Regions from separate parts of the Homo sapiens genome. Here region 2 is linked to region 1. The links come from fine-mapping of genetic effects on gene expression. A gene starts in region 1. The other region holds a variant in brackets. All regions are shown on one strand. Distances are from middle to middle.

Evidence for each region. PIP is the estimated chance that this variant, and not a neighbour inherited with it, causes the effect.
Region 2: its variant is fine-mapped to the expression of TOX4 in hippocampus (GTEx, PIP 0.97).

Annotation. Positions count from the first base shown.
Region 1 is chr14:21,469,998-21,480,302 of GRCh38, reverse strand. TOX4 (TOX high mobility group box family member 4) reads right to left here and starts at 3,108. Exons shown (of 9, transcript NM_014828.4): 1 at 3,019-3,108; 2 at 2,739-2,807. The coding sequence starts at 3,024. It overlaps RAB2B (RAB2B, member RAS oncogene family), which reads left to right and starts at 3,344. Exons shown (of 8, transcript NM_032846.4): 1 at 3,344-3,476; 2 at 3,704-3,775; 3 at 5,369-5,436. The coding sequence starts at 3,431. RefSeq lists enhancers at 3,158-3,227, 3,808-3,927.
Region 2 is chr14:20,663,512-20,673,912 of GRCh38, reverse strand. No RefSeq gene overlaps it. Among named protein-coding and RNA genes, the nearest start is that of TRY-GTA5-4, 5.4 kb to the right of the region's middle. RefSeq lists enhancers at 4,765-4,954, 5,605-5,944, 7,083-7,192 and a silencer at 10,254-10,323. The variant C/T (reference allele first, on the strand shown) is at 4,799.

The DNA.
Region 1 (10,305 bases):
AAATAAGATTTCTTAAGTCACAAAAACAAAAACAAAGGACAGATTCAAACCTGGAAAGTTTCTTTCTTTTTTATTATAATATTACTTGTTAATACTTTAAATTTACTTTTCTTCACTATACACCATGATTCTTCATGGGAAGTTTCTTGATGTGAAAAGGAACCACTTCTGTCCTGGCATGGTGGCTCACACCTACAATACTAGTACTTTGGGAGGCCAAGGTGGGAGGATCGCTTGAGCCTAGGAATTTGAGACCAGCCTGGACAACATGGTGAGATCCTGTCTCTATTAAAAACAAAAGCAAAAGCAAAAAGGAACCACTTTTTTAAATGTGGCTACCTCTTGATTGTTCAACTTCATAAATGGGGTAGAGAATTAAGAACAGTGGGTAAACTTGAAAGCTACTTGTATTTAATTTTAAAATGCACTTTCTCATGAACGAGGCCAACGTAAAATTTATAACACTCTAAATAACAAAATTTAAACTGTGGAGACCTGATTGAGGAGAAATTGGGAATTTCATGCAGGTAAGTCCAATGTGAGATTTGCAACACTCAAATAATGAAATTTAAAAATGAAGATCTCACTTAGAAGAAAATGGCAACTAAGAGTGCAAAGCACCAAGCAGATTTTAGCTGTTTTTGTTTGTTTGTTTGAGATGGAGTCTCACTCGTTCACCTAGGCTGGAGTACAATGGCGCAATCTCGGCTCACTGCAACCTCTGCCTCCCAGGTTCAAGCGATTCTCCTGCCTCAGCCTCCTGAGTATCTGGGATTACAGGCGCGCACCACCACACCCGGCTAATTTTTGTATTTTTAGTAGAGATGGGGTTTCACATGTTGGTCAGGCTGGTCTCGAACTCCTGACCTCGTGATCCGCCCTCCTTGGCCTCCCAAAGTGCTGGGATTACAGGCATGAGCCACCGCACCCCGCCTCACCTGTTTTTTTAAAATTAATTATTATTATCTTTTATAGAGACAGAGTTTGATCACGTTGCCCAAGCTGGTCTAGAACTCTTGGGCTCATGCAATTCTCCTGCCTCAGCCTCCCAAACAGTTGGGATTACTGGCACGAGCTACTGTGCTGGGCCCAGATTTAGGTTTTATATCATTTCAAAGTTTGCTGCATACTAGATTCACACTTATCCTGCTTATGAGAATAATAAATAAAAGCAACAAAAAAGTTAAACTGGCACTGGGCACATTGGCTCATGCCTGTAATCCTAGCACTTTAGGAGGCTGAGGCGGGCAGATCACTTGAGGCCAGGAGTTAAAGAGCCTGGGTAACAGGGTGAAACCCCGTCTCTACAAAAATTCAAAAAAAAAAAAAAAATTAGCTGGGTGTGGTGGCGCACACCTGTATTCCCAGCTACTTGGGAGGTTGAGGCAGGAGAATCACTTGAGCCCAGGAGGTGGAGGCTGCAGTGAGCCAAGATCGTGCTACTGCACTCCAGCCTGGGCTACAGGGAGACTGTCTCAAAAAAAAAAAGAAAGAAAAAAAAAGTTAAACTAGCAACTGGCCCTTGTCAACCCCATTTTCATCCATGAAAACGTTAGGATTATAGGATAAGCCCATGCAACAGCCACTGACAATTCTTGGTAAAAAAAACTGATGCAAATGGTCCACACCACTTTTGAAAATAAATATAAAAGTCCTCAAAAAATGGCAGATGGTTCAAGACTTCAGTTTCTCAAAGACAGAAATTTTTGTCTGTTCCACCATTCTCTTTTGCCTCTCCCAAACAAGTGATACATATCTATATTATGACAATATTTCAACCAAACTTTTTTAACGAACACTTCAGGGTTTCATCATAACCTTTACTTCTACTTTAAAACAGCATAAGAAACTATAATTACAGCTGTTTGACAGCTGGGGAAACTGTGACATACAAAGATGAAGTAATGTGCCCAACGTCTGAGTCACTGGCAAATTGAAACACATGTCCTACTCAACTCTTTTATATTCTCTAGCAGCTATTTCCTTTCCTCCTGACATTAGCAAAACAAGCTGACACCATGTAGGTAAAGGTAACCACAAATTTTTTATCAAAGTAGGAAATTTAGGCCGGGCGCAATGGCTCAGGCCTGTAATCCCAGCACTCCGGGAGGCCGAGGTGGGTGGATCACCTGAGGTCAGGAGTTCGAAACCAGCCTGGCCAATATGGTGAAACTGCCATCTCTACTAAATATACAAAAATTAGCCGAGCGTGGTGGCGCACGCCTGTAATCCCAGCTACTCGGGAGGCTGAGGCAGGAGAATCGCTTGAACCCAGGAGACAGAGGTTGCAGTGAGCCGAGATCGCACCACTGCACTTCAACCTGGGCGATAAAGCGAGACTCTGTCTCAAAACAAAAGAAAACCAATAAGCTCCTCCCCTCAACCCCAATTTCTTCAGCTGCTGAAACATTTTCTTTCCACTGCGATCCCCTAAGATTACTGTAGCTATTTCTCCCCAGAGAAAGGAGACAATTCCACTCTGTCTTCTAATCCAGAATCCCTTTTCTCTTTAAACAGGTTATCTCTTTCCAATACCTTGCTTTCTGATGACAGCAACTTCCCAAGACTTCCCCAGATAGTCCCCACAGGCTCTAGAAGCAACCGCCACTTTTCTCTAAACACCAATTGCGGCCCTTGGTTCCCAGCCCCCGTCCCCGGAGTCCGTGCTCTCCTCCCCACTACCCTACCCCACCGCTGCCTCAGGCCCTACCCCCGCGGCGTCGGCAGCTCTGGCTCACCTCGGCCCCTGACAGGAAGGGGTGCGAAGGCCCTGTGATCGTCAGGTAATTGTCATTTCCTCCGGGAAACTGGAAACCAAAAGAAAGTCGCGGGGATAAGTTAGGGGGAGCAGGGAGTCAGCTTGGAGCGATGGCTTTTGACCCTGACATTCTGACAACACTCCCCAAACCCCGCTCTCTCTCCTCTCCCGTCAGTCGCCTCTCCGCCCGGCTTCCCGTCCCTGCTTCAACCCGGTCGGCCGCGTTCTCTCGCCAGCCTTCTTAGCTATCAGGTTCCTACCTCCATCTTCACACAACCGCTCCCACCGTCTCAGACCCTCATCGCTCCCACCGCCCCCACTGGACTCGGAACTGCCGTCACTTCCGCAAGGACGTGTGTTCTCTCTGCTGATTGGAAGGAGCGCCGTGGGGCTGCAGAGAGTCAGGCGCTGGGCTATCGCCCCCTGGAGTTTGGAGGGATAAGGGCATGTAGAAGTGCTAGAAGCGTCCCTGGAGGTGGCGTAGGGTACTCCCGACCTAAGGATGATTCCGGGGAGTGCAATAGAGACGTGATCTGGGCTAGAGGAGCCGGAGGGGCGGGGGAGCGGGGGGAAGGGGGAGAAGAAGAAGATCGGTAGATTGAGTGGCTAGAGAGGTCGGAGGTAAGTGGCTATAGAAGTCGGGCGGACCCGGAACCCAGAGGACGCGACACCATGACTTATGCTTATCTCTTCAAGTATATCATCATCGGAGACACAGGTAACCCTCAGGTGGTTCGCCTTCAAGGCTCGGGCGGGCATTCGAAGCTCCCAAATTGGGTGGCGGGGGCGGGGCTCACTTTGTGGGCTGGGCGATTCGAGACGGGCGGGGCGGTTCGGGGCGGCCGGGGGCGGGGCTCGGGAGCCCCCCTTCTCTGGTCCGGGAAGTCCATACTCTGGAAGGTGTTCCAGGGCTGCGTGATTCCGGGAGTGTGCTTTCTCTTTCAGGTGTGGGGAAGTCATGTCTCCTCCTGCAGTTTACAGATAAGCGGTTCCAGCCTGTCCACGACCTCACAATAGGTAAGTGCATCTACTTGTTCCAGAACAGATGATAAAACCTGACTAGCTAAATTGCTAAAGTGGAAAGTTAGCAGCCTTCAGTGTTCGAAGTAAAAAGTTACCCCTCACTACTTTAAACTAGTCCAAACTTATGTTAATGAAGTGACCAATGAAACGTTGATATGTGGGGAGTAGTGTAAGGGAGAGTATATAATTGAAAGGTAACTTTTTAGAGTGTGAGGTATAGACTCGTCATATAATTTTTTTTCAAATACAATTTGTATGTTTATGGAAAATCCCACGAAAGCATAACTGCTTATTTATGAACTCATCTGTGCTTTGAGGTAAATTAATACCAGCCTTACTTTTAAAAAGTAAACACCAATACATGGACATTTTTTATATTGGTGAAGAAGCAAATTGAGGAGTCATCCCTGCCTTAGAATTAATAGGCAAATAAAACTAAAAACTTTCCTTTTAAATGAAAGAGTGTGTTAACAGTTCCTCAAACGCACTGGCGATCCTGGAAAATATTAACCTTTCCCACACGTTTGTGATAAGGCATGGCCTGAAGAGGCTTTTAACTACCCCCTCTTCGTTATCTCCGTAACCCCAGTCCAAATAAACAACATATATGAAACTAGCTTTCTTGCCATGCAAATGCAGTTTCTAAATAAACCCCTACATCCCCATTCTTACCATATTGCTACTTCCAAGTCCCACCTGTATGGAAACCTGAAGCTACCACTGTTCCTAACGGATTTATTTAGAGTCAAATAATTGATGGGGTTAGAAAAGGATTTGGCAGTATCAACTAAAAGGTATTTTAAAGGGAATATTGAGCGAATTCTCACTTTGCGATAGGGGCTAATGATACAATGCTTAACAAGGCAACAATGCTTAATTGTGCCTCTGGCAATTATTGGAAATGTAAAATGTATTGTTAAAAAAATTAGGTGGGCGTTGTGGCGTGTGCCTGTAAGGTACTTACTTGGGAGGCTGAGGCAGGAGAATCACTTGAACTCAGGAGGTGGAGGCTGCAGTGAGCTGAGATCGCACCACTGCACTCCAGCCTGGGTGACGGAGCGAGACTCCATCTCAAAAAAAAAAAAAAAAAAGTATTGTTTCTGAGAACCTATTTCTTAGGCTCTTTTCTTAAAGAAAAACATCTGGAATTGCAAAAAAATAAATATTGTTTTAAGTAGAGACTAAAGAGTGACTGAGAAAGTGTCAGGAAATATTTCCAAAATTTTTAGTTTTTTGGAAAAGTTACAAAACTAAATGTTACCTAACCAAATTTAAGCATTAACCTAACATTGCTAAAAAAGTATTCACCTTTTTAAATTTGACTTCTTAATTGGTTTTATTTTCCCATATCTGCTTTTTGGTTACATTCCTGAGGTCATTGAGCACAATTTTTTAATTCTAGAAGGGAAATGAAGAACCTTAAGAAACACAAAATTAATTGGAGCAAATAGGCAGCAATAATGGAATTAGTGGCATTGAGTTCAGACAAAGGATGGTTATAACACATTGAGGAAAGGCAGGAACCTCCCACTCCACGTGGCTGCTGTTCGTGAGAATCACATTCTTTCTCTCGGTCTTTACCGACAGGTGTGGAGTTTGGAGCTCGTATGGTCAACATTGATGGAAAACAAATCAAACTGCAAATCTGGGATACGGTGAGAGTACAAAATAATTTAGTCTCTGACCAATATCCAAGTATAACAAGAAAAGCTGATGCAAAGGAAAGGGGCGATGAGGGTGGAACTAATGGTGGGGATAAAGTAGGGGAAAGGTGAAATCAAAGAGAGAAGTTTTTGATTCTGTTACAGTTACAAATTCTGGATGCTGTATCTTTGTGTTGTAAACGATCCAAGTAATAGTTTATTCTAGTAAAAATAAAATCAAACAATATAAATTTATAGAATAGAAAGTAAATGTCCCCTTTTGATACATAAACTCTTTCTCCCTTCCCATCTTGGTTGGTACTCTAGCAGGGAAATCATTACTGATGATTCCACGTGTATGCTTTCAGACTTTTTCTATGCATTTAGATACATACATGTAAACACATAGAAATATATGGTAGTAGTTTTGTTTTTATTAGTGTTTACATGTATAGAATCGTGACAGAGTAGACCTAGTTGTGTGACTTAGATTGTATATTAAACAATCTCTATGTTGTGGGGACCTTTCCATATCAATACATATAGATCTGTCTCATTCCTTTTAACCACTGCGTAGTCATGGAATGTCAGTAGCATGATTTATGTAACCATCATCCTACTGATAGAAATTTGGGTTGTTTTCCAATTTTTAAGTATTGCAGAATTTCACTGAGCATTCTTTTTTTTGAGACAGAGATTCACTCTTGTCACCCAGGCTGGAATGCAATGGCGTAATCTTGGCTCACCGCGACCTCCACCGCCTGGGTTCAAGCAATTCTCCAGCCTCAGCCTCCTGAGTAGCCGGGATTACAGGCACCCACCACCACACGTGGCTAATGTTTTTTGTATTTTTTGTATTTTTTTTCTGAGACGGAGTCTTACTCTGTTGCCCAGGCTGGAGTGCAGTGGCGTGATCTCAGCTCACTGCAAGCTCCGCCTCCCGGGTTCGTGCCATTCTCCTGTCTCAGCCTCCCGAATAGCTGGGACTACAGGCGCCTGACACCACGCCTGGCTAATTTTTTGTATTTTTAGTAGAGAGGGGGTTTCACCGTGTTAGCCAGCATGGTCTCGATCTCCTGACCTCGTGATCCGCCCGCCTCAGCCTCCCAAAGTGCCGGGATTACAGGTGTGAGCCACCACTCCCGGACGTTTTTTGTATTTTTAATAGAGATGGGGTTTTGCCATGTTGGCCAGGCCGGTGTTGAACTGACCTCAGGTGATCCACCCACCTAGGCCTCTCAAAATGCTGGGATTACAGGCGTGAGCCACAGTGCCCAGCCTGAACATCCTTATTTACAAAGTTTTTATGCCAATGTTTGAGAATTTTTGTGGAATATCTGCCCAGAAATGGAAACTCTGTCAAAAGCTTGTACATATTTTCAAATTTGATACATGTAGTAATGCCAAAATTTAGCTTGGCTTAGTGTAGTTTTGCCCTATCCAGATAAATTGCTTTCATGTGCATTATCTCATTTGATTTGTACATTTTTCCCCCTAAGTAAAATAATACCTTAGTCTCCATTCTAGTTAAAGGGAGCTAGTAAATAGCTAGTAAATAATATTTGGCTAAAATCTCTTACTTTTTTTGCTTACTTCTTACTATGTGATTCTGTTTCTTCTCTGAACTGAGAGCTAAAGCCATTATATCTGCAAACAGTGTACACATTATTTTTCCTTTTTTCTTTTCCTCCCTTTCCTCTCCTTCCCTCCCCAATGCTCCTCACCACACGCAAGTGTATGTCTTAAAAGTAGTTGAAGCTTAAGTTCATCTGTCTATCCATCCATCTATCCGTCTATCTCTACAGATCTATCCCCTGATCCCCTGCACTGGGGAATTTTTGTATTTTTTGTAGAGACGGGGGTTTCAACATGTTTCCCAGGCTGGTCTCGAATTCCTGGACTCAAGTGATCCGCCCTCCTCAGCCTCCCAAAGTGTTGGGATTACAGGCCTGAGCCTTGGCACCTGGCCCAGATGAATGTTTTGATGCTGGGGAAAAAAACCCAATAAGTGCCATTTAATGGAATGGTCATGGCAATGGCCTTTTTTTTTTTTTTTTAAGCACTCATATGGGACATGGTTGGATCATGAAAGTAAGAAAGTTGAGAGCTTGATTCTGCTGAGAATGCATACATAGAAAAACAAACAAAAAAGGAAAGTTGAGAGCCACGACTTTGGACAGAATCCTTAAGAACTACATGGTCATCCAACTGGCCTAGTTCTTTTCTGTTCCCTCTTAAAATTGTCTTGAGATTAATATTTGCTAAATCATAAAAAGGAACCAGTTTCAGAACACTGTGGTTTTCTATATATTTTGAAAATTTTAAAAGATTCATACGTATAATAATGTGTCCATCTAGTCTGTCGCCTTTTGGGTAAGTCTGGTCATTTCTCCGTTGTCAGCCCTGATCTCCTGCCCATTGTTTACCCATCTTAGCTTCCCACTTTATTGACCCATTCTCTCACTTACTTCCAAACCCATCCTACATGAAAATGTTTAGGGATTACTGTGATAGGTATTTTAAAGAGATCAGGTTGTCCAAAGGTTTTTGTTGTCTTTGTTCTGGCATTTATGTGGATTTAGAGAAGCATATTTTAAAAAATCGTGTGTGTGTGTGTATACACGTATTCCTAAATAATCATGCTAATGAATAGGTATTTTACTGTAATATAAAATACTGATCAAATAATATCAAATTGGTTTGTATTTTACTTTGGAATGCAATTAAAATTTTTTTTTCCTTAATAAACCGTTCATTGGAAGGAATGCATTTTGATTCTTAGGAAAATGGTGTATCTGACTTTCTAGGAGTTGATACTTCAAACTGTATATCTTAATATAGTATGATGCTTCCACTTGGGAGAGATTAGAAAGCTATTAATTATCTTATCAAACCTTCATCTAGGCCGGGTGTCGTGGCTCATGCCTGTAATTCCAGCACTTTGGGAGGCTGAGGCAGGCGGATCACCTGAGGTCAGGAGTTTGAGACTAGCCTGGCCAACATGGTGAAACCCCATCTCTACTAAAAATAAAAAAATTAGCCAGGTGTGGTGGCGGGCGCCTGTAATGCCAGCTACTGGGGAGGCTGAGGCAGGAGAATCACTTGAACCTGGGAGGCGGAGGTTGCAGTGAGCCAAGATCATGCCACTGCACTCCAGCCTGGGCAACAGAGCGAGACTCCCTCTCAAAAAAAAAAAAGGAAAAAAAAACCTTCATCTTAGTTCGTTGCTGCTGCATCTTTTCTTTTCTTTTTTTTTTTTTTTTGACAGGGTCTTGCTCTGTCACCCAAGCTGGAGTGCAGTGGCACCATCTCCACTCATTGCACCCTCAACCTCCCCGGCTCAACTAGTCCTCCCACCTCAGCCCCTCAAGTAGCTGGGACTACAGATGTGTGCCATCACACCTGGCTAATTTTTTGTATTTTTTTTAGAGGCGTGGTTTCACCATGTTGCCCAGGCTGGTCTCAAACTCCTGAGCTCAAATGATCTGCCCACCTTGGCCTCCCAAAGTGCTGGGATTATAGGCATGACCCACGGTGCCCAGCCTGCTGCTTCAGATTTTTTTACTGGGGATGGCCAAGGATACCTGAGACTGATATAGACAAGACCAAATTGAACTGCTCACTCTTTCTAGCTTACTGGTTCACAAACTTTGGCTCATGAACTGGAATGAGATGAAGTAGAGTGATTTTTTTTTTTTTTTTAATTTAGACAGAGTCTCACTCTGTTGCCCAGGCTGGAGTGCAATAGCGCCATCTTGGCTTACTGCAGCCTCTGCCTCCCGGGCTCAAGCAGTTCTCCTGCCTTAGCCTCCTGAGTAGCTGGGATTACAGGCGTGCGCCACCACGCCCACCTATTTTTTTTTTTTTTTTTTTTTTTTTTTTTTTGTATTTTTAGCAGAGATGGGGTTTCATCATGTTGGTCAGGCTGGTCTCAAACTCCTGACCTCGTGATCTGCCCGCCTTGGCCTCCCAAAGTGCTGGGATTACAGGCATGAGCCACTGCGCCTGGTGAGTGATTTGATTTTAAAAGGTTTTCTCATGACCCACTGATAGCATTTTCAGCTGCTAAAGATAAATGCTGCCATGTGATTGAACCATCATGTGGGCCTCCCTCAAACTTTCCCTTTTAGTTCTTGGTAGGCTGTGAGGGAAGTAGAGGGAGGCTTACAACCATAGCAGAAGAGGAGAAAAAGTAAGTGCTAAAAGGAAAACAAGACCCAAATAACGTAAGACATTAGGGAGTAAATATAAAACTGTAAGTATTTTTTTAATCTTAAAATATTATTAGTATTATGACAGGGGACTTCAGAATTAGTTTTTATTTTCCGATTCTGATTCTCTAACAGCTATGCAACTCACTCACATGTTTCTATGATTCTTATAGAAAGAGATTCTTCTGTTGTTGGAAAATTAACCTTAGAGTTAGTATACTGGAATTCTCTTCTCACCTACAAACCCCAGTTTAGGTTATATGATATAGTGGCTAAGAGGACAAGTTTTTGTCCTAGGAAGTACTAAGATCCTAAGTTTAAATTATGGCTCTAGCACTTAATAAGCTTTATGATTTGGGGCCGTTTATTAAACTTGTGTGAGCCTCATTTTCCCCATTTTTAAAAGGAAATAATAAGCCAGGCACGGTGGCTCATGCCTGTAATCCCAGCACTTTGGGAGGCCGAGGCGGGTGGGTCATGAGGTCAGGAGTTCAAGACCAGCCTAGCCAACATAGTGAAAACCCATCTCTACCAAAAATACAAAAAAATTAGCCAGGCATGGTGGTGGGCGCCTGTAATCCCAGCTAATTGGGAGGCTGAAGCAAGGAGAATTGCTTGAACCTGGGAGGCGGAGGTTGCAGTGAGCCAAGATTGCGCCACTGCACTCCAG
Region 2 (10,401 bases), 810 kb after region 1:
GCGAGGAGGAGCCTGGCCCCATCTCTTCCTGGGAGGAGCCTGGGATTTGAAAGCCTGGGCGGCAAGTGCTCTAGCAGGGACTCTGGCCTAGCAGAGTCCCCCTTTTCTTCCTTTTTCACCCAATAAAACCCTGTCTTACTCACCATTCCAATTGTCTGCGAGCCTGAATTTTCGTGGCCGTGGGACAAAGAACTCTGTCTTGAGCTGAACTAAAGAAAAGTCCCGCAACATTTGGGCAGGCAGGGGAATGCTGATTAGTTAGGTCAGAGATAAAATCACAGGGAGTCGGAGCTTGCCTTCTTTCACTGAGTCAGTTCCTGAGAGGGGGCCAGTTTATCGATCTCGGTGACGCCAGCTGATCCATTCAGAATGCAGAGTCTGAAAAATACCTAGAACAGCAATCTTAGATTTTTACAATAATAATGTTATCTATAGGAGCAATTGAGGAGGTTAGGATCTTGTGGCCTCTGGCTATATGACTCCTGAGCCATAATTTCTAATACTGTGGGCTAAGTTGTTGCTTTTACAAAGGAGGTCTGACCCCCAAGCAAGGAGGGGGTTTGCTTCATGAAGGGGCTGTTGTCATGTTTGTCTGAAAGTTAAACTACAAACTAAATTCCTCCCGTGGTTTGCTTGGCATACGCCCAGAAATGAGCAAAGGAAGCTTGGAGGTTAGAAGCAAGATCGAGTTGGTAGCCGGGTGCGGTGGCTCACGCCTGTAATCCCAGCACTTTGGGAGGCCAAGGCGGGCAGATCACTTGAGGTCAATAGGTGGAGACCAGCCTGGCCAACATGGTGAACACCCATCTCTATTAAAAAATACAAAAATTAGCCGAGCGTAGTGGTGCACGCCTGTAATCCTAGATACTCGGGAGGCTGAGGCAGGAGAATCGCTTGAACCCGGGAGGCGGAGGTTGCAGCGAGCCGAGGTTGCGCCACTGCACTCCAGCCTGGGCAACAGAGCAAGACTCCGTCTCGGAAAAAAAAAAAAAAAAAGATGGAGTTGGTTACATCAGACTTCTTTCACTGTTATAATTTTTGTAAAGGTGGTTTCACCAGCTGCACTCTTCTCATAGCTTCTACTGAGAAACTGGGGAGATTGCTGGCGGTGGGGAATCTGGGTCTAGCGAAGGTCTCAGGCAGTCTGCACTGATACTAATTTTCCAGGTCAGGAGAGACAAAGTAGTCATAGTGGGCCCATGTTTCCCCAGTGTGTCAAGCCAAAAGGTTAAAATAATAGGCACTATGGACTTAAAGAAATCAAAATTAATTTTGTCCCAAACCAAGTTGAGAACCGTAGCCTGGAACACAAACAGTGCAAACTGAGAATGTGTCCCAGAGTGGGTTACATGAGGCACGGTATTTACATGTTTTTTCTAAATAAAAAATCAAAGAAGGGGGCAGTGAAGCAAAGGTGACATTTTTACAGTTTTGACTGATGTTTAGTGATGGTATTCACAGACAAACCAAAAGTGTGGTTAACATATATAGGGATAGGGTAACAAGTAAAGGAGTATGTACGCATCTTAGGGTTTGGAGGGGAATGACTGATGTTATCTTGCTGTTAGAAAAAGGAAAATTCAAATAAAATGTTAATATGGGCCCACAATGGCTGCAGTTGGGCATATGGGTAATAAAACCCAGGCCTATAAACTAAAGCTGATCTCTTGCCTGTGTAACTGGAGTTTGTTGACAGGGGCTGGCCATGAACCTGTTTATCAGATGTAGAACAAAGACAGAATGGAATTAGTCACCCTTCCTCCACCAGACTCTAAGATGCTTAGCCTTTCTCCCTACTCACTCAACTGTATATTTACCTTATGTATGGCATCACTGAGCACTCATCAGAATCACAACAATGTAACCACTGTTTCATTAACCACTTCTCCCTCCTGTGCCACACACATCCCCGTTAGAAAATTTAAGTATACTGTGCCTCATGTAAACTACTTTGGGACCTATTGTAGGTCTATTCTAAGTCTGTGTTCTCAGGCATAACTCCTCAAACTTGGCTGAGAATAAATCTAACCATGACTTCTTTAAGTTCAAGTGCCTGTTATGTCACTTTTCAGTTGACACTGCCTTTGTGCTTCATCTGCTAGGCAAGGTTACAATCAGTAGACATCAGTGAAAACATTTGACATGGCTGGGTGTGGTGGCTCGCGGCTGTAATCCCAGAACTTTGGGAAGCAGACGTAGGTGGTTACCTGAGGTCAGGAGTTTGAGACCAGCTTGCCCAACATGGCAAAACCCTGACTCTGCTAAAAAAAAAAAAAAAAATACAAAAAGTAGCCAGACATGGTGGTGTGTGCCTATAGTCCCAGCTACTTGGGAGGCTGAGGCAGGAGGATCACTTGAACCTAGGAGGCAGCAGGTTGCAGTGAGCCGAAATCATGCCACTGCACTCCAGCCTGGGCAACAGAGCAAGACTCTGTCTCAAAAAAAAAAAAAAAGACAAAAAAAGACAAACTTTAGCCTTTCAGGCTAGAGTTCAGCTTTAGTTCATAGGTCTAGTTTCTATTACCTATATGCTCAACCTGCAGCCATCTTGGGCCACTTTTAAACATTGTTCTTTCAGATTTTCCTTTTTCTGACAAGTGCCATGCAGGAAAAATCAGGAGGGGGATGGGGGCAAGGGCTTTGTCCAGACAACATTTATGCAGATTGTATTCCTGGTCTGGCCTGGGGCCTTGTCTTCTTGTATGATGACTTTGGGAGGAGGGTTGCAATTGCTTGAGCCTAGAGACAAATATCTATTCCTTTTTCCTTCTGTTAGTTTTCTTGGTTGTGGATCAACAAAATGAAGATGTCTCCTAGAAGAGTAAAATAGTAAGGTCAGCAAGTCAAGGGTTAATGCGCCAGGCTGTAACAAAGGTGTGAGTTCTAGCCTCACTGGGGCTCCAGTTGCTTCAGTTTTTATGCTCTGGGATGTATTTACCAAGCTCAGATAACTTCACTGGTGAATTTTAATAAATGTTTCAGGAATAATGACAATTCTACACAACTTCTTGCAGCAAAACTGGAGAGGAGATAATAATTCTCAACTCTTTACATGAGGACAGTGTATTCTGATATTAAAAGCAAAGATACTTCAAAAGAAAGAAAACTACAGGTCAGTGTCTCTTAAGAACATGGAAGCCAAAAAGTTTAACATAACTTCGGCGAGTTGAATCCAACAGTATATAAAATAATGATACATCAGAATCAAGGGGGATTTATCCCAGAAAAGCAAATTTGGTTTGATATTCAAAATTAATCAATGTAATTTATTATATTAACAAACTATATTATATTAAAAAGAAAAACATGATTATATCAAAAGATGTAGACAAAACATTTGTCACAATTTCACATTTGTTTATTTATTGCTTACTTATATTTTTAGAGATGAGGGTTTCCCTCTGTCCCCCAAGCTGAAGGGCAGTGGCACAACCATAGCTCACTACAGCCTCAACTTCTTAGGCTCAAGTGATCTTCCTGCCTCAGCCTCCTGAGTAGCTGGGACTACCAGTGTGTGCCACCATGCCCTGATAATATCTTTTTCTTTATTTTCGTTTTTTTTTTTCTTTGAGATGGAGTTTCGCTCTTTGTTGCCCAGGCTGGAGTGCAGAGGTGCGATCTCACTGCAACCTCCGCCTCCCAAATTCAAGTGATTCTCCTGCCTCAGCCTCCCGAGTAGCTGGGATTACAGGCTCCCACCACCACACCTGGCTAATTTTTTTGTATTTTTAGTAGAGATGGGGTTTCACCATGTTGGCCAGGCTGGTCTGGAACTCCTGACCTCAGGTGATCCTCCCGCCTCAGCCTCCCAAAGTGCTGGGATTACAGGCGTGAGCCACTGCGCCTGGCGCCCTGATAATGTTTTAAAATTTTTCATAAAGGCGGGTTCTCACTTTGTTGCCCACGTTGGTCTTGCACTCCTGGGCTAAAGTGATCCTCTCATCTTGGCTTTCCAAAGCGCTTAGATTATAGACATGAGCCACCAATGCCCGCTACACATTCGCTTCTCATATAAACTCAGCGAATTAGAAATAGAAGGGCCTTTTCTCAATCTGATAAAGGGCACGTATGAAAAACTTTCAGCTAACAATACACTTAATGATGAAAGACTGAATGATTTCCCTGTGAGATTAGGACAAGCAAGGACATCTGCTTTCATCACTATCATCAGCAATGTGTGGAGATTCTTGAACAGTAATGCAAAAAAATAAAAATGGAAGCCATCCATGTTTAAAGGAAGAAGTAAAACTGTTTTATTCCGGGCTGGGCACAGTAGCTCACGCCTGTAATCCCAGCACTTTGGGAGGCCGAGGCAGGCAGATCACTTGAGGTCAGGAGTTCGAGATCAGCCTGACCAACATGGAGAAACCCCAAGTCTCTACTAAAAATACAAAATTAGCCAGGCATGGCAGCACATGCCTGTAATCCCAGCTACTCGGGAGGCTGAGGCAGGCGAATTGCTTGAACCTGGGAGGTGGAGGTTGCAGTAAGCCAAGATTGTGCCATTGCACTCCATCCTGGGCAACAAGAGCGCAGGGTTCTCTTCCAAGGCAGGTTCCAACCAACCCAACACATATTGGACCTCTGGCATTCCAGGGACTTGGTGTCCTCCATTTGCAGAAAGTCCAGTGACCCAGCTCTAACTTTGTGTGCTCTTTGAGAGATCAGCTGATAGAGTGGAGGACTGTACACATCTGTGGACATCCTTAGGTTGCTGGTTCAATTCCTGCTTGAGGGAAGTGTCTGAGTCTTTTGTACACACACCAGTGCTCCCTGGCTGCACCTCTGCCTGGTCAAA[C/T]GCCCTGCTGTCGCCACACTCTCCCAGGCAAAACCCAGCAAAGCCTTATCCAGATTACCTAGCTTGCCATGCCTGTGCTGTTGCCAGTACACTTCAGTGCAAAGTGCCCCTTACTTCTGCTTTGTGACCCAGCCAATCCCCCATCCGAACCCTTACCATCTCAGGGCTGCTTCATTTTTATTCACAGGGTGCTTTTGGACCTAAGCACTGCTGGGGAATCTGGCAACACAGCTGGATTCATCTGTGACCAAGCTCTCCTGACCAGGTTGGCAAACCCTGGAAAGCCAAGCTCCCAGGAGACCATCAAGCATTCAGGACAACAGTGTAGGGTCGAGGACAACCATGATACCATCCGTGAACTCACCCTCTCCCCCTCATTTCCTTCCTGAGCTATTACTACCTCACCTCTGTCTGTATCTCATTCTCTCTCTCTCTTTCACAATTTCTCTCTCTGTCTGTGTATATTTCTCTCTGTCTGTCTCTGCCCCTTCTCCCTAGCACTCTGTGTCTCTCTCATTCTCCTTTGCCGGAAATGTATAGACTCATACAGACAGAAAATGCTCATCCTTGCTATGTTGTGTCTACTTGGGGAGACAGCAGCCACCCTGAGAATTTTCTAAGGCAAAGAACCTCCATTGGCAAGGTCAGGTTGCCCCATGGGATGAGGACATGGTGTGTCTACCCACTCACCCCTGTCCTAAATCCCTCAAGCCTCACCTTTCCTGAGTCTTCACATCTTTTTATTTTGCTACAGCTGGGCTTGGCTCCTGCTGGAAGAGTAAGAATACCTAACACTCACCGCTTAGTTCAAAGATGTCAAAAACACCTGCCACTTAGGAGGCTGTGAGAGCAGGAAGGAAGTACAAAATGGCAGGCCTGAAAAGAGCTTCAGTGACTTGGGAGAGTTGGGGATTGTTGGTCTATGACAGGAAACAGAAGTGAAACTTGAGTGACATCTGTCATCATACAGCGGCACACAAATTCACCTCCTTAGAAAGGCCACTGCCTGGTGGGTCTGAGCAGTTTGGACCTTTTGCACTAGGATCTAGCAGCACAGTTGGGCTCTCCTACCTCTGAGAAAAATATGTTGAAGCCCAGTCAGAGAGGATGGAGCAGAAAATGGACTGGGCTTTCACCAACCAGTGGAGCTTCATATCTGTGGAGATGCAGTGGGTTTTGTGGGTATGGGGCAGAGAAGAAAGCCAATGAGTGTCCCTTGGTCTCATCCCAAGATCTCAGAAAAATGTGCATCAGACACTTGGTGTACAGATGCAACCTATCACAGAGAGCACTCTAAGCCCAGTGGTCCATGGGAGCATGGCCCTCTGAAGCCCTTTGAGGACTGGGTCCCTGCCCTCCCCTACCCTCTGTGGCCACAAGAACTGCTTCATTGTGGGTCTCAATCTGGAGACTGTATGTGTCTTCTTCTCCTGGAAAGCAGCAGACGGTCTCCCCCAACACTGCCTATTCCCCTCACGTTCCCCCGGCTGTGTCAATCTTTCCCACTTCTCACTGCTAGTGGAAAGGAGCCAAGCTGTGGATTCACCAGTGCTCTGAGACGATTGTATGGCTGTGGAGCTGCAGAGAGACCCCAGTCTCCAGTGACACCAAAAACAGAGACCAGTGAACAGGGACCAAAGGTAGCACCTTAGGTCTTCATTAGATATGTTCCTGATGGGACATGGAGGTACAGGTCCTCTGAAACCTCAGTTTGGTGTTTTGAGGGCAAAAGCAGAAGGGGGCCAGGTAGTGGGCTTTGGTGACCAGCACAAGCGAGGGTGAACCCCAGATGCCCACTTTTCCAGTCTGGGACATGACAGAGTAGCAAGGGGTGTTCATGCATCTGACTCTCACCTTTGGCCATTCAGACCCACTTAGCATAAGACAGGGAGTGGACTTAAACTCAATGGATGCTAGGTCCCTTGGGGTGGCTTGCTGTACCCCCACTAGGTGTTCAGCAGGGGGGTGGGTGTCTCCGTGGTCTTGGGGTGGTGGGCATACAGCAGATGGGATCTGAAACCTTTGCCAAAGATGTGGTGTCAGGAGAAACTCACACCTCTGTACTCTGCCACCATTTTTTTGTTTGTTTATTTTGTTTTTTTTTTTTTTTTTCCAAGAAACCCACAGAACCTTGCTGATATGGCTTGGCTGTGTCCCCACCCAAATCTCAACTTGAATTGTATCTCCCAAAATTCCAACGTGTTGTGGGAGGGACCCAGGCGGAGGTAATTGAATCATGGGGGCCAGTCTTTCCTGTGCTATTCTTGTGAATAAGTCTCACGAGATCTGATGGGTTTATCAGGGGTTTCTGCTCTGCTTCTCTTTCATTTTCTCCTGCCACTGTCATGTAAGAAGTGCCTTTTGCCTCCCACCATGATTCTGAGGCCTCCCCAGCCATGTGAAATTGTAAGTCCAATTAAACCTCTTTTTCATCCCACTCTGGGGTATGTCTTTATCAGCAGCGTGAAAATGGACTAATACAGTAAATTGGTACCAGTAGAGTGCGGCATTGCTGAAAAGATACCCAAAAATGCGGAAGTGACTTTGGAACTGGGTAACAGGCATAGATTGGAACAGTTTGGAGGGTTCAGAAGAAGACACGGAAATGTGGGAAAGTTTGGAACTTCTTAGAGACTTGTTGAATGACTTTACCCAAAATGCTGATAGTGATATGGATAATAAAATGCAGGCTGAGGTGGTCTCAGATGGAGATAAGGAACTTGTTGGGAACTGGAGCAAAGATTATTCTTGTTATGTTTTAGCAAAGAAATTAACAGCATTTTGCCTCTGCCCTAAAGATTTGTGGAACTTTGAACTTGAGTAAGATGATTTAGGGTACCTGGCAGAAGAAATTTCTAAGCAGCAAAGCATTCAAGAGGTGACTTGGGTATGTTAAAGGCATTCAGTTTTGGTTTTTTTTTTTTTTTGAGATGGAGTCTTGCTCTGTCGCCCAGGCTGGAGTGCAGTGGCGCGATATCGGCTCACTGCAAGTTCTGCCTCCTGGGTTCACACCATTCTCCTGTCTCAGCCTTCCGAGTAGCTGGAACTACAGGTGACCGCCACCACGCCCGGCTAATTTTTTTTTGGTATTTTTAGTAGAGACGGGGTTTCACCATGTTAGCCTTGATCTCCTGACCTTGTGATCCGCCCGCCTCGGCCTCCTAAAGTGCTGGGATTACAGGCGTGAGCCAACACGCCCGGCGGCGTTCAGTTTTATATAGGAAGCAGAACATAAAAGTTTGGAAAATTTGCAGCCTGACTATGTGATAGAAAAGAAAAACCCAAACCCATTTTCTGGTGAGAAATTCAAACTGGCTACAGAAATTTGCACAAGTAGCAAGAAGCCTAATGTTAATCCCCAAGACCATGGGGAAAATGTCTCCAGGCCATGTCAGAGACCACCACGGCAGCCCCTCCCATCCATCACAGGCCCAGAAGCCCAGGAGGAAAAAGTGGTTTCGTGGGCCGGGCCCAGGGTCCTAGTGCTGTGTGCAGCCTAGGAACTCCGTGCTCTGTGTCCCAGCTGCTCCCCCTGTGGCTGAAAGGGGCTAACATACAGCTTGGGCGGTAGCTTCAGAGGGTGGAAGCCCCAAGCCTTGGCAGCTTCCATGTGGTGTTGAGCCTGCGGGTGCACAGAAGTCAAGAATTGAGGTTTGGGAACCTCCTCCTAGATTTCAGAAGAGTATGGAAACGCTTGGATGCCCAGGCAAAAGCTTGCTGCAGGGGTGGGGCCCTTATGGAGAACCTCTGCTAGGACAATGTGAAAGGGAAATGTGTGGTCAGAGCCCCCACACAGAGTCCCTACTGGGGCATTGCCTAGTGGAGCTGTGAGAAGAGGGCCACTATCCTCCAGACCCCAGAATGGTAGATCCACTGACAGCTTGCACCGTGCACCTGGAAAAGCTGCAGACCCTCAAGGCCAGCCCAGGAAAGCAGCTTGGAGAGAGGCTGTATCCTTCAAAGACACAGGGGTGGAGCTGCCTAAGACCATGGGAATCCACCTCTTGCATCAGTGTGACCTGGATGTGAGACCTGAAGTCAAAGGAGATCATTTTGAAGCTTTAAAATTTGACAGCCCTGCTGGATTTCGGACTTGCATGGGCTCTGTAACTCCTTCGTTTTGGCAAATTTCTCCCATTTGGAATGGCTGTATTTATCCAATACCTGTACCCCCATTGTGTCTAGGAAGTAACGAGCTTGCTTTTGATTTTACAGGCTCATAGGCAGAAGGGACTTTCCTTGTCTTAGATAAGACTTTGGACTGTGGACTTTTGGGTTAACGCTGAAATGAGTTAAGACTTTGGGGGACTGTTGGGAAGGCATAATTGGTGTTCAAATGTGAGGACATGAGATTTAGAGAGGCCAGGGGCGGAATGATACTGTTTGGCTGTGTCCCTACCCAAATCTCAACTTGAATTGTATCTCCCAAAATTCCCACGTGTTGTGAGAGGGACCAGGGGGAGATAATTGAATCACGGGGGCCAGTTTTTCCAGTGCTATTCTCAGGATAGTGAATAAGTCTCACAAGATCTGATGGGTTTACCAGGGGTTTCCGCTTTTGCTTCTCTCTTATTTTCTCCTGCCTCTGCCATGTAAGAAGTGCCTTGGACAGGAGGGGTGGCTCACGCCTGTAATCCCAGCACTTTGGGAGGCCGAGGAGGGTGGATCACCTAAGGTCGGGAGTTCAAGACCAGCCTGGCCAACATGGAGAAACCCCAAGTCTTTACTAAAAATGCAAAATTAGCCGGGCGTGGCGGCGCATACCTGTAATCCCAGCTACTCCGGAGGCTGAGGCGGCAGAATCGCTTGAACCTGGGAGGCGGAGGTGGCGGTGAGCTGAGATCGCGCCATTTCACTCCAGCCTGGGCAACGAGAGTGAAACTCCATCTCAAAAAAAAAAAAAAAAAAAGAAGAAGAAGAAGAAGAAGAAGAAGAAGTGCCTTTCACCTCCAGCCATGATTCTGAGGCCCCCTAGGCATGTGGAACTGTGAGTCCAATTAAACCTCTTTTTCATCCCAGTCTCGGGTATGTCTTTATCCGCAGCATGAAAACGGACTAATATACTTGCCCTACTTCAGAAAGAGGAAGCCTCTGGGGGAGAAAAAAAAAAGAGTTCTTGGTCAGTTTGCAGAGGAGGGAAGCCAAGCCCCAGTTGGGCGCTGGGGAGGAAGGAGGGTATCACAGTGCATCTGCAAGCCCTGGGCGAGTTCTTCTCACCTAGTCCCATTTGTTCTCTCTCTCACTTCTAGCACACTTGAATGCGCCAAAAAGCAAGCATAGGACACTGTAGGGAAAAGGGCGGAGGCACATCGGGAGAAGGGGCATGTGTGTGTTGGCCGGGAAGGGAGTAGGAAGGCCAGAGTTTTAGGAAAGGGCTGCTTAAGGACTTTCAGCAGACCCTGCAGCTGGTCTGCGGATAGCGGCCGCCCACCCAGAAGCTTTCCGAGTTCTTCTTTCCTCCTCCTGCAACCCCTGTCCCACAGGATCCACCCATCCACCTAGCCCATCCCTCTGACCGAGCCCTCTCACCCTCTTGTTTTCTTTCGCTGAGGGCTGTCATCCTCACTTGTAAAAACAGAGATGCACAGGTGGAGGAAGGCCAC